Regions from separate parts of the Homo sapiens genome. Here region 1 is linked to region 2. Evidence: fine-mapped expression QTL. A gene starts in region 2. The other region holds a variant in brackets. All regions are shown on one strand. Distances are from middle to middle. Region 1 holds the start of POLR2I (RNA polymerase II subunit I). Region 2 holds the start of HCST (hematopoietic cell signal transducer).

Region 1 (2,898 bases), 210 kb before region 2:
CCTGTCTAATGATGGGTCTGTCTCTCGTCAGGCTGCACTGGAGGCTCCACGAAGGCAGGACCTATCTCGGGTATGACTGAGGGCAAAGCCCAGCAAGTGTCTGTTGAATAACCAAATGAAAGGTGGGGTGGGGGAGTGTCCCAGATAGAGAGTCCTCACGTGGATGCGGCAGCCGTCATCTACAGGGTAGGAGCCCAGGAGCGCATCCTCTTGATCCAGCTTGCTGTAGAACTTGTCGTCAACTCCATACAGCTCCAGTTCCATGCAGGAAGCAGGGCTGCCCACCAGCAACTCCAGTTTACACTGTGAGGAGGAGGCAGGGTGAGAAGAAGGAGGCCACGGAGGCCCCGCCCCTTGCATCAATGACCATCGCCACGTCCCTTTTCCTCCAAAAGACCCCCCAGTCAGGACGCACGGGGCCGCAATCCAGCCCCTCGCCTCTTGCCCCCGCCCTCTGGACCGTCGGATTTTTCGCTGGACCCGGCCCTCATCTCTGCACTCTCGAGTTCTCTCCGGACCCGCCCCGCCGCGACCGGGTCCCCAGCCTCCGCAGCCTGGGATCACCTCCGGGCCCGCCCAGTCACTCCCCGGCCCCTCCCAGCCTCCCCCTTCCGGGAACCCCCCAATTTCTTCGCCCCGCCCCTCCGGACCCCGCCCCCATGGCCACACCTTGAACTCAGCGATGGTGAGGCTGCGGCTGTATCGCTTCTCGGAGCGGAAGGTGTTGAGGGAGCTGCTGATGAAAACGGTCACCGTGGGTGCCGACACCCCCGTCACCTCCATCTTGCCGCGCCCTGCGGATGCCTGCAGCGCGGTCCAGCCGCCTCACACCCGCTCCGCAGCCGCCGCCGCCGCTGCTGCTGCTGGGCTATCAGCCCCGCCTCCTGCTCCGTGCCTGACCAATCCGCGCTCTCCTGCCAGGAGCGTCCGCCAATCGCCGCCGTCCCTTCCCCACCGCCAGGAAGAGGGCTCTCCTTACTCTTGGGCCAGCCCAGCCAATCCAGAGGGGCCTTCCATAGTTCACGGTTCTTCCAATAGCGGCCCGGGAAAGGACCAGAACAGGCGGCGAAGACTGAAGCCCGGAGGTAGGAGTGGCAAGAGCTCGCCCAGTCCGCGAAGGGTAAACTCGCGCATGCGCACTGGCCTTCAACCAAGCCAAGCGCCTTGGCTTCTGTCCTGGATGCTCAGTGTTTTGCGGTTTACGATGCGCATCGTTTTCCCGGCTCTGGCACCAGATCCATACTATTCTGTAAACTGAGGCGGCGATGCCCAAAAATTGGAAGCAATTACTCTAAGATATCAAAAGATTGAAGCAAGCCATGAAACCTCTGCGCGGAGAGAGCCGAGCCCGAGGCGGCGGGGAGCCAGCA[C/A]GTGTGCGCAGCTCCGCCCTCTTTTGGCGAAGCACCTAGGCCTGGCCCCTCCCGCGACCTGTAGCGCGGCGGAGCAAGCGCGGAAGGCTGGGAGGGCTGCGCGGGCTGCGCGTCGCCATGGAGCCCGACGGGACTTACGAGCCGGGCTTCGTGGGTATTCGCTTCTGCCAGGAATGGTGAGGCGGAGGGAGCGGGTGATGTTAGAAGGCGGGCGAGGAATGGCTCCAGAACTAACCCCTGGCACCTCCCCCTCCCCACAGTAACAACATGCTGTACCCCAAGGAAGACAAGGAGAACCGCATTCTGCTCTACGCGGTGAGCGCCGGGGTCTTCCCCGGCAGGTCCACCTGTTCCCAGCGTGGCCCCGCCCTGCCCCCTGCCTCTGTGATCGGACTCCCTGTTCGCCCTCCGCTGCACCTCAAGTGATCCTGACTCTCATGTCCTGCCCATCCCCAAAGAGAGTCCTGTCGTCATATCCTCCGGGATCACCCTGCCCTCTCCTCCCAATCTTGTCTGGAATCCTTCCGTGACCCCCTTTCCCCCACACTCGCCCTCTCGTAGTGCCGGAACTGTGATTACCAGCAGGAGGCCGACAACAGCTGCATCTATGTCAACAAGATCACGCACGAAGTGGAGTGAGTGGCGGGCCCTGAGCTGGGGGCGGGGGTGTTGGCTCTGGAGGCTGGGTCTGAGCGTAATTTTGCACCCCCGCGTCCCTGCAGCGAACTGACCCAGATTATCGCCGACGTGTCCCAGGACCCCACGTTGCCGCGGACCGAGGACCACCCGTGCCAAAAGTGAGCGTTCAGCTGGTACTGGGGAGGTAAAGTGAGGCTCGTCTCCTCACTGGGCGAAGGGAGGAGGGAAGGGTGTGAAGCCTCCGGTGACCGAGCCCCTACCCTCTCAGGTGCGGCCACAAGGAGGCTGTGTTCTTCCAGTCACACAGTGCGCGGGCCGAGGTAAGTGGCGCGAGGGCTTTCTAAGTATCTGGGGCTTGTTTGGTCCTTTCTGGGGGCGGGGATATCAATGTGGGTGACCCTGCGCTTCTTGGAACTCTGCCGGGCCCTTACCTATTGGTGAAGTTCTCTTGCCTGTTCTTTTGGGGTAAGGCGCTGCTGGGTCCAAATCCTTCCTAACCATGCATCATTTCTGCCAGGACGCCATGCGCCTTTACTACGTGTGCACAGCCCCACACTGCGGCCACCGCTGGACCGAGTGACCTCCTCTCTCCCCCGAGTGTAATAAACACCAGATTCCATGCGTGAGTTTTCTGTGTTTATTTGCCTCGTGGGGAGGACGCTGGCACACCGTATCAGGCTGCGCGGTGCAGGGCGCGGTGCTGTGCGTAGGTGTCGGGCCGGGAGCTGGTGAAGCCGCAGTCCTCGCACACGTGCAGCTTCTCGCGGCGCTCACGGTAAGCGTAGCTGGCCGGCTGTCCATGCACCTTAGCAAGGTGAGCTTCCAGGGAGCAGCGCTGCGTAAACGCTTTCCCGCAAGCACTGCAGCGGAAGGGCCGGATCCCTGCACA
Region 2 (2,898 bases):
CTGTGCCACCACACACCATCCAGGATGAGAGGGTCAGAAGTCAAAGGTCCAAGCTGCAGGAGGGTCAGCCCCTGCCTGGCATGTTGATGTAGACTTTGCCATCTTCTGGGGATAGGGGAGAGAAAGCATGAAGCTTGACCACCCATATCTCCACTTCCCTGGGGACCCCCTGCTTCAGGGGTTTCCTCAGGGGTTCCCCCAGGCACCTCCCCCAGGGTTTCCCCAGCACCTCCTCCAGGGCTTCCCCAAGGGCCCCCTCCCTGGGACCCCCTCCCTAGGGACACTATACACCTTCCAGGCCCCGCCCATCTCCGCCCTCACCTTGGGCGGGGCTGCGGCGTGGGCGTGCGCACAGGAACACCGCCCCCACGATGAGCAGCGATGCCACCGCATCAGCAGCCACGAGGCCTGCCAGGAGCGGCAGAGAGAGGGACCCACATCCGGAACAAGAGCCTGGAGAGTGGGGGCCGGAACAGGGAGACAACTCAAGCTCTGCGTCCTGGGGCTGTGCTTTGGCCACAGGCAGAGAGGAAGTCCCCTGCGAGGGGGCGGGTCCCAGGTTCCTTGGAGTTGCGCTTGGGGAATGAAACGGGAGACAGATGCAGAGAGGCTGGGGTGTCCCAGGACCCTCGGGGCTGTGCGGCGGGCACACGGGGTGCTCCTGAACACAGGCTGGGGGTCGCTGATTCTGGGACTCGGAGAAGGACACGGATCCTCTGATTTGGGGACGGGAGGTGGGATGGTGACCTGGAGAACCACTGGGGTGTTCTGGGAGCCTCTGGCCAAGCTTCTGGGGTGGAAGTGATACCTGAAGTGCCAGGGTAAAAGGCAGGGAGTGATGATCTCTCTCCTGGAGTCGTCTGAGCTGCAGCCACTGTGGAAAGAGAAAGAAGGTGGATGAGGGTGGAGAGAAGGTCCACAAAACAGAATGCTCAGCCTGGCACCGTGGCTCACGCCTGTCATCCCAGCACTTTGGGAGGCCGAGGCAGGAAGATCGCTTGAGCCCAGGAGTTCGAGACCAGCCTGGGCAACATAGTGAGACCTCGTCTCTACAAGAAATACAAAAATTAGCTGGAAGTGTTGGTTCACACCTGTAATCCCAGTTACTCGGGAGGCTGAGCTGGGAGGATCACCTGAGCCCAGGAAGTCAAGGCTGCCGTGAGCCGTGATTGTGCCACTGCACTCCAGCCTGGACAACAGAGCAAGACCCCATCTCAAAATAAACAAACCAAAAAATAGGGTGTAGAGAAGGAAAGGTAGTGTCCTGAGAAGTAATCTCCAGGCTGGAGAGATGGAACAGGACCACATGGGAAGGGGACTCCCAGAGACATGGAGAGTGACAAGAAATTGGAAGTGGCAGCAGAGACCCAGCCATGAGAAGGGGACGCTAACAGGCAGCCCCTCCAGAACTCCCTGTCTCACCCCCTTCCGCCCCCAAGGACCCAGGCCCTGAAGCAGAATGGATCTCCCAGAAGGGAAGGGGTGCAGGGAGAAGAACCCCACTTTCATCACCCGTCCCTGCAGACGTCACCCAAGCACCCATCTCACAAACGCTCTGCCTACCATCCCCTGTAACCACTGGCTTCACCTGGGAGCAAAAGCAGGAAGAGGATGTGACCCAGATGGATCATGGTGGACTGGGGTCTGGCAGGGGTCTGGCAGAGGACTGTGGTCCAGAGAAGTCCAGAGGAACTGTGGGGGAGCAGAGAAGTAGCAATAGCGGATGTCACCCTGCTGGTGTCAAGGCCATCTGCTTCCTGTGTGTGTTGAGGGGGTGTCTCCGTTACTGCCTTTGGTGAACGAACTCAGGGGGAGGGTCAGAGAGACCAGGGAGGCTGCTGGCCTGGTCCAAGTGGGAATGACAGGTGGCAAGGGTGTGCAGGCTAGGGAGATCTGGAAATATTTTGGAGGTAGGGCCAAGAAAATTTGCTGATTAAATGAATGTGGGTGTGTTTGAGAGGGATCCTAGACAGCCAAGCCTTCTGGCATGAAACGCTGAGAAGATGGGAGTGTCTGCTGGCAGAGATGAAAGGTAGGGAAGTGGGTTTGCGGGGAAAGTGACGAGGTTTGGGCATACAGGGTTGGAAATGCCTGACAATCTCCCTGTGGAGATGCTGAATAACCTCACTGCATTTAGGAGTTCAGGGGATAAGGCTGGTCTGGAGATGTAAATTTGGGGGTTGATGGCTTATGGATGGTACTTAAAGCCACAAGACTGGGTGAGATCACCAAGGAAGTGAGTGCAGACAGGATTCTGCCCCTATCACAACACACACTGAATGGGGGAAGAGGAGGAACTTTGCCAGGGAAATGGAGAAAGAGGGAGGGGACCCCTGAGAGCATGGCATCTTGAAAGCAGGGGAGAGGCCACCGCAGTGGCTCATGCCTGTAATCCCAGCACTTTGGGAGGCCAAGGTGGGGGGATCACCTGAGATCAGGAGTTCAAGCCAATATGGTGAAACCCCGTCTCTACAAAAATACAAAAATTACCCGGGCATGGTGTCAGGCTCCTGTAATCCCAGCTACTTGGGAGACTGAGGCAAGTGGAGGTTGCAGTGAGCCGAGATCTCACCACTTTGCCACTGCACTCCAGCCTGGGCGACAGAATGAGACCCTCTCTCTAACAATAAAAATGTAATAATAAAATAAAATAGAAAAGCAAGCAAGCAGGGGAGAAATAGGGCCAACATGGTCAGTGCTGTGAAAGGTCACCAAGTGAAACTGAGAGTGGCCTCCCACTGGAATGCCAGCTCCAGGGCTGGGAATTCCTGCCTGCTTAGTTCACAATACACAGCAAAATGCCTCCTCTGCTGCAATAAATTATTTTAAATGATGAATGAGTAAATGAAACCAGACCTCTAAAAAGGGTGATGTAGGGGAGAGGGAGAAATTGAGCCA

What was found. PIP is the estimated chance that this variant, and not a neighbour inherited with it, causes the effect.
Region 1: its variant is fine-mapped to the expression of HCST in ovary (GTEx, PIP above 0.99).

The regions. Positions count from the first base shown.
Region 1 is chr19:36,113,446-36,116,343 of GRCh38, reverse strand. It overlaps OVOL3 (ovo like zinc finger 3), which reads right to left. Exons shown (of 4, transcript NM_001302757.2): 4 at 2,633-2,891. The coding sequence ends at 2,683. It overlaps POLR2I (RNA polymerase II subunit I), which reads left to right and starts at 1,469. Exons shown (of 6, transcript NM_006233.5): 1 at 1,469-1,546; 2 at 1,631-1,685; 3 at 1,932-2,005; 4 at 2,093-2,167; 5 at 2,278-2,329; 6 at 2,527-2,635. The coding sequence starts at 1,488. The coding sequence ends at 2,589. TBCB (tubulin folding cofactor B) reads right to left here and starts at 876. Exons shown (of 6, transcript NM_001281.3): 1 at 670-876; 2 at 160-303. The coding sequence starts at 783. RefSeq lists enhancers at 146-235, 1,826-1,955, 1,974-2,485 and a silencer at 546-635. The variant C/A (reference allele first, on the strand shown) is at 1,371.
Region 2 is chr19:35,901,327-35,904,224 of GRCh38, reverse strand. It overlaps HCST (hematopoietic cell signal transducer), which reads right to left and starts at 1,696. Exons shown (of 4, transcript NM_014266.4): 1 at 1,589-1,696; 2 at 809-874; 3 at 322-453; 4 at 1-105. The coding sequence starts at 1,631. The coding sequence ends at 65. It also overlaps a transcript of NFKBID not described here.